Linked DNA regions of Homo sapiens: region 2 is linked to region 1. Evidence: fine-mapped expression QTL. A gene starts in region 1. The other region holds a variant in brackets. All regions are shown on one strand. Distances are from middle to middle. Region 1 holds the start of MS4A4A (membrane spanning 4-domains A4A). Region 2 overlaps MS4A6E (membrane spanning 4-domains A6E).

Region 1 (5,391 bases):
ATTCTATTTTTATCAGAAGTATTCATTATAGCCTCTGAATGTTCCCTGTGTCCATTTGTGGCTTTGGATATTCAATCCACCACTGATGTTGTAGCCAGAATGATCAAATACAAAAACAATTGAGTCACCATCCCCTTTAAAAGCCTTCTTTTATATTTCACCACCCTTAGCATAAAGTTAAAATTTTTAATGTTGATAACAAAAGCTCGGCTACTTCAGCACAAATCTATTGTAGTCTTACCTCGAATCTCTCTCCTTTTAATTTTTAAAGCTCCAAGTATATTTGACTTATTTAAGTTGTTCCAAAGACGTAATTTCATTCCTATATTGAGACATCTGCATATATTGAAACCATTTGCAGGAATGTTCCACCCCTCTTGTGACCACCTTGTAAGAACAAAAACAAACCCACCACATCATCTAATCTTCTCACACATGAACAGCATTTTATAGTCTCTATCTTCTCTCAGACACTATTCCCCCACTTCCCCACCATTGCCCACATGTGGATTAGTCAGCCTATGACGGTAAATAAGGGTTTAAGAAATGTGTTATGTTCCTTCTACATTGCAAAAGTCAAAGTTATTTGGAAAGTGACTAAAGATGATTCTTCTTAGTCCATCTAAATGTGTACTTTATTCTTCTTTAATGTAAAAGAACCTCTGCCTCAATCTCTCAGGCACACCTTCAGACTGAGAATTTAGGACATGTTGGGTCTGTCTTATCAAACGCACTGGTGGTTCTCTCTCTGTGTTTAGTGCCTCTCTGGTAAGACTGTAAGCTTCCTCGAGGGCAGAGCAATTATATCAAAATAAAGCTTGTAACTGACTCCTATGCTTTCCCATAATTCTTTGGTAACATAGGTCAGGTTCTGGTCATTCAAGGCTGGTGCTTTGTCATTCTAAGAAACTCTGGCCATAAATTCATATAACTGCCTCCTCTTTTTCCACCACAGAAATCCTTGTGTTAATTATCTACGGCACATGAAGTCCCCAAGAACAAAAACGTGTTTACCATCCAGGGCTTGACTTCTCTATATTCAATTTTTTTTTTAACTGCTGAGAATATTGGATGCATATGAGGGACATTTCTTCCAGGTTGGAGAAGAATTTAAACCTTGGTTTTGCCACATCACCTATATGCATCAGGCTCTTAAGAAATACAATGTCTTTCCCCCACACCCCTGATAAAGAGGTGGGGAAACCCAGACCACCCTTCCCTCTTCTATTGGCCCCAGTCACCTTGTGGATCAGCAGCACCACCAGTCTCTTATTTCCTCATTTTTATGTCACCATCCTCCTCATGGGTCACAATTGCAAGGAGAGAGCATGAGGAGAGTGGTACAAACAGCCATCCGTTTTTCTTGGCAAAGTTGTCAAATAGACTAGAAACCCAAAATGAGGCCTGAATCTGGATGGTTTTAGAAGGATGATGGGGATGCAGAAGTGGTGGCATGGGAAGGGAAAAGGGGGAAAGGCCCGGGCTAGGAACCAAGAATTCTGTTTTTGTTTTTGTTTTTGTTTTTCTCCCAGCCCTTTTGTTAACTTGTGTGATTCTGGGTACATTATTTCCCTTTTATTGGCTTCTTTTACTTCATCTGGGGAAAGATTACAATGGCCACGACCACTTACAAGCTTCTTTCTTATCCTAAGAATGCTAAAAGTCTACAAGGTGTTTTTCATTAGCAGATTTTATCATGAGCAGCCTCAGTTTACTGCCTGGGTGCCCCATGAATAGTGCCAAAGACCACTGGAGAACTAGGTCAGGCCACAGCCCATCTAAATGTACAAGGCTGGGGACCCTGCCTGTGCCCTACTCCATGTACACCAAATTCTGCATGTGATACATCTGTTCTTAAATCCTGAGTTATAAAAATAACCAGTCAGACACAGAGAATAAAGACCACAGAAGAAGGGCATTAACAGTAGATGAGGTAACTAGTCAAAGGTTTAAAATGTTGCTTTCAGTGTTTTGATATCCTGAAGACTCAGGGGACAAAAGTAACTAAACAACCTTATCCAGCCTCCAATGTCAGCCTTTAGGAGGCTTTTCTAACTCCTATCGACTGTAGCAAAAACTGTTCCTCATCCCCCCACCGAATGCACATTTAAAGGTGCACTCAACCCACCCCAACCCTGAATACCAGCTTGGGTCATGGGAAGTGGCCTCATTATTCTTCTCATTCCCCTCCCAGAAATTCTTAACCCAGGAAGTGAAACAAGCCATCAGCCCGAAAGCCTAGGAAGGCAAGTCCCTGGACCTACCTTTCTTCAGGCCTGCAATGTCTGCTGTAGGTCTGATGCATGCAGGGCTCTGGGCAAGTTCCTCAAAGTTCTTTGGTCTAGACCCAATCAACTTCCCCCACTCCACACCTCACTCAGTTTAAATCTGCATTCCTCTTCTAGCAGATGTTTGGAACCTTAAAGGCTGTGCTGAGAATTTCTGAGACGCACAGCTAGTTCCTCTTTTATATCGGAAGCATTAACTGATTTTGTGTTCCCAATATGGGTGTGGATGTCTATTTTGAAATTTGCTGAAAAAGCAGGGGCTGCCTGATACAGTCTTTCCTATGAAAATAATACTGCTAATTACTGTGGATATCAGTGGTAGAGGATTTACTGTATGCCAGACTCTCTTCAAAAGTCGTTATATAAACAAGTAAATGGTATTTTGTAAATACCCCCTTTCACAGGGTCACACATTTCCACAGTACTCTTGTCTTCCTGGAGCACTACTATTACTATTTTATTAGGTTGGTGCAAAAGTAATTGCAGTTTTTGCCATTATTTTATGGCCAAAATCACAATTAACTTTTGCACCAACCTTAATATACACAACTTAAATGTTTTATTTACATGAAATTCCACCTTTAGAGATTCATCAGGAGTGGCCATAAAATGGCAACAAGTTGGTTGTATGGCAATAAAACAACACCTTTCTAAGTGAAGGAAGCAGCTGGTATCATAGAACGAGCTGGTCTTTGACTAAGATCAAACCAATGGCAAACATTTCTTGCATGGCCCTGTTAATCTCCTGAACCTAAGATTCATTTGTAAAATAAAATAATGCCTACTTTACATGGAGGAGGAAAGCAAAGTGGTGTGCAGTTTTCATTCATTCAGCATTTTCTTTAGAAAAACTACTATAAGCCAAGCAGTGTGCCGTGTGCTTCTGAAAAAATGGTAAAAAATAATTTTCACTCAAAGAGTTTATAGACTACTTGGAAAAACAGACCAGTAAATAAATCACTACAATCCATTACTATCAGTTATCTGCAAGGTAAAGTGGCAATACAGATGAGTAAATACATCATTACAACCCATTGTAATCAGTGATCTGCAAGGTAAAGTAGGATATCCTAAGAGAGCTCATAGGAGGATCAATGAACCCAACATTGGGTAGGCAGAGGAGACTTCCTAGATAAGGGGACATCTAATTGGAGACCTGATGAATGAGCAAAAGACACACAAATGGAAAGGGAATGAAGGAAGGTAATATTATTATTTCTATTTTTCAGAAGAAGAAACTGAAACTCAGAGATATTCGTATAGCTGGTATAGATGAGATTGAAATCCAGTTTTACTTAATTCCAAAAACTATGTGGTCTATAATCTGAAATTACGATTCTCAAAATTAAAATAGATTATATTTCAGAAATATTGTCCTGGTTTCAGACAACAGGAATAAATAATAATAAAATCAGAGAATTAGGCTCAAGGTAGAGGCAGTTCTCTAGGGAAGGGATGATGGTTACTGAACTACCTGTGATGCTAGTGAAGTTGGAGAGAATGAATGGATTTGAAAGATGCTTAGGAACAAGAAATGACAGTACTTGTTGGTATAATGGATGTGTAAATCAGGAGAAAAAACAGGAAAGGATGACACTCAGATTCTGGGTTAGGAAACTGAATGAGTGATAGAGCCATTCAGTAAGGCAATAGACATGGACCAGGACAGAACTGCAGGAACAAATAGTAAAATTTTGAACGTATTTGATCAGAGTTGTGTAGGGACCTTCAAATAAAGTTGACAAGAAGTGGATAACTGGCAGGAGCTAGGGAATGAGAACATGGCTATAGAGGTAAACCCAACAGCTCTTCGCCCAGAGGGATGAGGTCACCCAGGCTTGTGGGTGGAGGCAGAAAACGTCAAACCCTTTTTCTAGAGGATAGAGACAGTATAATCAGAAATAAGATTTCCCAGAGGATTATGAAAAAGAGGGTAAGGAAGATAGCAGGCAAACTCGGAAAATGTGGCATTGCAGAAGACAAGGGTACAGAGTTTCATGACTTCCTAAGAGAGGTTGAAATTCTGGACTAAGGACAGGCATCAGTCTCTCCTCCCACTCCATATGGTATGAAATGAGACAGTATCAGGTTATTATTAGCAGATAACAATTTCAAGAGAACAATAACATGAAATTTGACAGAGAAATATATATATTCTATATATATAGAATATATATCCTATTATATATAATAGAATATCTATATATTATATATAATTATATATCATATACAGATATATTATATATAATAGATATAATATATAATATATATTATATAATAGAATATATATTATATTATAATAGAATATATTATATATATAATAGAATGTATCTCTATATAATATGTTATATTATATATTAACAGAGACTGGGTTTCACCATTTTGGCCAGGCTGTTCTCGAACTCCAGATCTCAAGTAATATACCCTCCTCAGCCTCCCAAAGTGCTGGGATTACAGGCGTGAGCCACTGCACCCGGCCTTGAGCTGGATTTTGAATCCTATGCCCTATGTGAGCTGGAGCAAGTTGCTTAGGCTTTCTGCACCTCAGTTTACTCATCTGTAAAATATAGATAGTAATATGTCATAGCGTTGTTGAAAGGGTTATATTAGGTAATATAAATAAATTACTTATCATTTTTTGAGCACAGAAATATTTCAGTAGGAAGAAATCATTCAATTATTATTAAATACTTCAGAGAGACAAGCTAACAACAGTAAAATGTTCACTGGATTTAGCCTGAAAGAAATCATTAGTGCCCCCTTCCCCAGTTCCCAATCAATTTTCTTTCTCCAGAAGCAAGTATTTAAATTTTAATTGTTTCTTTTTGTGTTGACTCCATATTTCTAAGTGAATGATTTTAAATACTGTTCTAATTTTTGGTTTTATATATTATGCACTAACCTCCTACTACTGAAGACAATAGACTAACCCCTATATCCTTCATTTTTACCCTGGACACACCTTCCCACCATAACACTTCCTTTTCCCTCATTCTCCCATATAGTTTTATCACGATTTTTTAGTTAACTCAATTTATAGTATTTAAATCATTAATGGCTAATTCATTATGAGTGTTATGATTACGCTTCCTTTTGACCATTT
Region 2 (5,391 bases), 59 kb before region 1:
AATATCTTGAAGCCAAATCATGTATCTTATTCACTTTGGTAGCCCTGGCATTAAAAGCATAGTGTCTGGTATCCAATAAGTATCAATAAAAGTTGAATGTCCACAATAGGCAAATAAATAAAAGAAATGGTGTGTGTCAGTGGGGGGTGCAAAGGACAGGGAGAAGACCTAATGAAACAGATTTGAAGATAAAGCTAAAATCAAAGAAACTGACAGTTCCATTTGAGACTGGAAAAAAAGAGCAGAGAAACTCTCTGAGTATCAGGATATCTGAGACAGTGAGTATGAAGTATGACCCCTGCTACAGAGGGTCAGAGCAAGGAAATATGACAAAATCTTTCAAAGAAATGGAGGTCATATAAAATTGAAATACTTTTTTACACGTGTGTGTGTGTGTGTGCGTGTGTGTGCATGAGCAAGGTGAGGCTTATGTTTGTTATACTCAAACAATTCGTCTTTTTTATTTTGAAATAAGGACGTAAGTATGAACTGGTTGTCTCTTCATAACAGATAAGCATTCCTGGTTAGCATTTGTTCACTCGTTAGTTTTGTTTGAATATTGGTGAGGAGAAAATTGAGTTAAAATTTGGGTTTATGTCTGTCATTGTTGATTTATTCTGTGTTTAAAGGAAAAAATAACAAAATAAGTATTAAAATAAAGTATGCACTCAAAGATTTTATTTTGAAGCCGGCTACTTTCATACACTCGGAGACTTCATTATGGGGTTTGCCTTTATGCACTAATGAGTAAAATACATGGGATAAATCAGTAGCACCTGTGATAAAAGAGTCTGCGCACCACAGCAAATCAGTTAACTCCTGTTCACAATTGAGGAGTATAAGAAAAAGCTGTATCCTTTGCCTCACTGTGATCCATTGAATCATCATTCTGCCTAGTTTTCTGGGAAATGTCTAAGACTATTTGGCTAGTCTAGTAAATGGTAATTTACAGCCCTGTGCTTTTGCTGAAGTCAGTATCAGGCAAACCAAGAGATCCCCAATGAACACATATCATAAATGACAGCGAAATAATTTTTTAAAACAAATATGCATTACTTTAAATGCTTACATTTAGGAAACTCAAGTTTGCTTTTTTATAATGGTTAGGTTTTCCATATTATCATAAAAATCAACTTTCCAATTAATATTTCTCCGTTTTTTCCCAAGAAGTCAATAGTTCTTCATATCCAGCATCATGAGTCGTCTTTGAGGACATGAGTAACTGTGAGGCAGGAAAAGCACACTTTAGAAGAAACAAAGTATGTTAGGTCTTCAGACTTTACTCAGGTTCAAGATACATGTGGATATGCCATTTTTTCCAACTGTATACATAGAATTCTTAGCTAATCCAAGACAAGTAGAGCAGATCACTGGGTTCTTCAAATAATTACAATTTATCAGTCTAGTATTCTTCTATTCTCTATAATAAAATTCTGGATAAATCAAGGCTTTTAAATTCAGTTAAATAAAGCAATAAGTCCATAGGGGTGGTATCCCTTGGAATTTGATTCAACAATACATTTTTAATATATCTTTTAAAAGGAAAAAGAATTTTAAAATCACCAGGAGGAAAAGCAGAGCATAAGACATTCACTGGATCCAGTCACATGTGTAAAGGCCCTTTACCAAGTCAATACTATTAAAGAGACTAGTGGTTGTGGCAGAAATTGTTTCTGCTTAGAAGGGAGGCAAGCCAGGTTCTAGCGTCCTCAGCACAGGTACAGACTCATATCATAATGCCAGCCCAGTCATTTAACTTCCCAGAGTCTCATTCCCTTCAATGACAAAATGGGAAGATTGAACCAGTTGATTTCTCATTTTAACTATTTTCATATCCAGTGAACTCTCAGCTTGTCAGCTACTCAATTACCATCTGCTTTTCTTCTCGGTCTTCCATCACCATTTAAATGACCTCCCATGTGTATCTCATGACTGACTGATTGTTCCTTCTACCACTCTTGGTGACATACTCAACACAGTGCAGAGATAAGATACACTAGGCAAGATTAAGCGAGGCTGGCCAGCACACTCACCCAGGGAAGTCAGACAGTCTGTTTCCACTGCAGCACAGCAGTGAGCACAGCTAGGCAGAACTCCAACACAGTAGAAACCAGCATCAGAGACAGAGTTCCCTGAAAGTCAAGAAATAAAATATCAGTGATGCTTGGGTCAGCCGAAGCTTTCATGCCTAGTTTAGAGGTGACCATAGAGATGAAGACCACCTCAACCATTAGAGAATGAAGTAAGGAAACAATCAGGAAAACAAAACTGCTCCTCCTCACAATTGTCTTAATTCAACTCCTTCACTCATTCAGTTTCTTGAGAAGAGAAGGGAAGATGAGTAGTAACTAAATCAACTAATCCATTTCATACACTTGTTTCTCACTTCTTTGAGACGTACGTAGTTCTGATGACATTGTTCACTCAGTAAGAGAGCAGAGTGGCGTAATAGCTCCCAGGACTGAGAATCAGCAGCTCCATTATAGTCTCATCTTTACTGCTGAGTAGCTGTGTAAGCCTGGACAAGTCTCTTTCTTTCTCTAGCTCCTGTTTCCTCATGTATCAAACATGCATACTAACATTTATTTCTCAGAGATTTGTGAGGATCAAGGAGGTTTTGGCTGTGTAAGCCCTTTGTAAAATTCAGTATTGACATCCCTGTCTATGTATCTGAACCTGTTTGGATGTTTTTTATTTTTGTTGTTTATTTTTTATTTTTGCTGTTTTTGGTGTTTTAAGACTTGGAAAAAAACAGTGAAGGTAGTAAACTGTTGCTAATCACCAACACCAACTCACAAGGATGAGTTCTACCATTTCTGTCCTGAGACATTCTTTGTGCAGAACTGGTCATCTGATAATAAAGGG[A/G]GGTAATTTGATCACATGAACTTTTGTTTTGTGGTATTTACACACAGTTAAATAGAAGATACATGTTGTGTCCATTACCTAGAAATTGTTCCAGCAAGCAAGCTCAACAGAATCTCTCTTATTTCCAATATAAAATCGTCCCATCATGAATTTATACTTTATCACTACCAAATTTCTCCCAAATTTCTCTCCAGAATTTTTCCCAAGGTGGAATTTGTACCAATTACTGTCAGCCTCATTTGCATGCACTTTTTCCTCATTATACCATTACCTTGGAAGCAAGGCTCAGTTTATAATGGGTGCTGTACAAGCATGAATTTGACCAGACCTTTCTATCTGTCCATCGTCCAGGTGAGTTCTTGGCTGACCTCATTTTTATGATTGCAGGACAATAAATATTCTGCAACTTCTTTACTTTTATGTTGCCTGTTTTCCTCTCAATGCGTTGCTGGCCATGCACATACCCCTTAATTTTTCAACTTCAGACACATTATTTCTGTTAGCCAAACTTCATTGTTTTTCTTCTTCCAAAGAGAGAGAATTCTCCTGCGATAATTCTCAGTTACACTCTCCATCTCCCTATATTTCTTATCTCCTGATTTAAGATATCACACTTCTTTCAGCTATAACAAAAAGCAATAATAATGTTACCGTTTCACCTGATTAGTATTATTCATTATTGTAATCATTAGGAGAAACCCTTACCATCTAACCCCATATTTCCTATTCTCTGTTTCTTCATCTTTAGTCTGATGTCTTTTTAGACCAAACTGACCCCCTACCACACACACATACCACATTTCCTTGTCAGCATTTTCTGATCACCCGGGTCTTTCTGCTCTGTTTGCCAATCTGAATTCACCACTCTATGTACCAACATTCTCAGTTTGACAAACTCATAATTTATGCCTCCAAAATTAGATTAGTTGAGTAATTAAGAAACTCTACAAACCGTAAGTTTTAGTTTTTCATCATCAACCTTATCTGACATTTCAATTCCACTCTGTTAGTATGTAATCCCCTTAATCTCATCCATGCAGCCCCCCTTTGATTTACATAACCTTGGCCTTCCTCCAGATGCCCAAACCAGAATTAACAGAGAGATTTTCAAAGGATGGAATAATAAGAAATCAAGGCTTTCAGAAACCTCATAAAATTAGAACATCCCATCTAAAAAATACTTACAGCCAGACTGGCTTTGGCTCTATGGCAGTCCATGGTGTAAGGTGAATGATAATCATAAGAAAGAAGAAGTCTGGTTGGTATATCCTTTTCGTCCAACTTACACTGCAATGAGGCAGGATTTAATGCAGCCGGGTTGACAGACAGGAGAATGAAACCCACCAGGGCAGACAGAGCACTCAGAATGCTTCCAGCCAGGCTGCTATGCACCTGAAAGAGACATGCTGGGTAAGAATCATTCCCAAAGGGCCACGAATCTCTCTTATCCCTTTTTGCCATTACATTGCAAGTTATTCCCTTATCTGTCTCCCTCAGGAAGTCCCGGAGGGATCATTTCTTGTTGTAGGCCTCTCCAGTGTCCAGCCAAAAACTCAGAATCTGCAACGTAAAACTTGGCTGAATGAATGAACATATGAACTGGTTCCCCTCAAACAGGACCTCAGTAGTGTGGTAGAGAATGTTACTCTCCTAAATTCTTTCCCTGGGACAGATAGCAGGGCCCACGAGGCTTGCCTGGAAAATTACTGTGAGTGTGACCACAAGCAAAGGTGGCAATGTACCAGATGCAGTTTCTCTCTCGGCCAACTCAGAAACCCCTCGTGCAAGCATCAACCACACAGAAAATCTGGATGGTGTATTAGCATGGTGCAAAAGTAATTTTGGGTTTTGCCACTACTTTCAATGGCAAAACCGCAATTACCTTTGCACCAACCTAATAGCTCACTTTTGCGTGCCTATTGCCTCTCTCAAAAGCACACCTCTCAAAGATGAGTGAGGGGGTGGTTCTGAGTCTCAGGCAGGCCCTGGAACCTGGGCAGGCATATGACTGGCCACATTGAGCGCAGCATGGGGTGGCTGTGGGCAGAGGTCTAGGTGCGGGCCCAAGGATGGTGTAATGTGTGGGAGGCAGCGGGAGGTACAGAATAAAGGCCTGGACTGGATGTCAGAAAATTGAGGTCACAATATAGACTTGACCCAGCTTGTTCCCTTGGGTACTCAGTTCCTTGGTTTTATTTCCCACTCTGGTTCTCATTTCTACATTTATGAAGTGGAGGAAATAAATAAACTGACCTCAGAAGTGACTTCCTTTACTCCAACTCACACAGAAAAGAGAACTGAGCTCACAGCATTCTGAAAGCTATTGTTACAGGTAGGTAGGCTCCAGGGCACATCCCACAGCCATACAGTAGAGTGTTATTTAATCCCATATGGGCACTTCTTCTTTTAGGAACTCACCAGTTGATGCTCTGGGACCCCAATTTCCCAACATAATGACTGAAGTGTACACTCCTGGGCCTCCTAGTAGCCAGTAGTAGTCTTGATGCCTAGAGTCTATATTTCTTA

Evidence for each region. PIP is the estimated chance that this variant, and not a neighbour inherited with it, causes the effect.
Region 2: its variant is the best candidate, but not a certain one, in a credible set for the expression of MS4A4A in whole blood (TOPMed, PIP 0.50).

Annotation. Positions count from the first base shown.
Region 1 is chr11:60,277,590-60,282,980 of GRCh38, reverse strand. It overlaps MS4A4A (membrane spanning 4-domains A4A), which reads right to left and starts at 2,315. Exons shown (of 7, transcript NM_148975.3): 1 at 2,265-2,315. The coding sequence starts at 2,305. RefSeq lists a silencer at 2,381-2,430.
Region 2 is chr11:60,336,607-60,341,997 of GRCh38, reverse strand. It overlaps MS4A6E (membrane spanning 4-domains A6E), which reads right to left. Exons shown (of 5, transcript NM_139249.4): 3 at 4,051-4,257; 4 at 2,034-2,132; 5 at 657-1,222. The coding sequence ends at 2,043. Among named protein-coding and RNA genes, the nearest start is that of MS4A6E, 12 kb to the right of the region's middle. The variant A/G (reference allele first, on the strand shown) is at 2,866.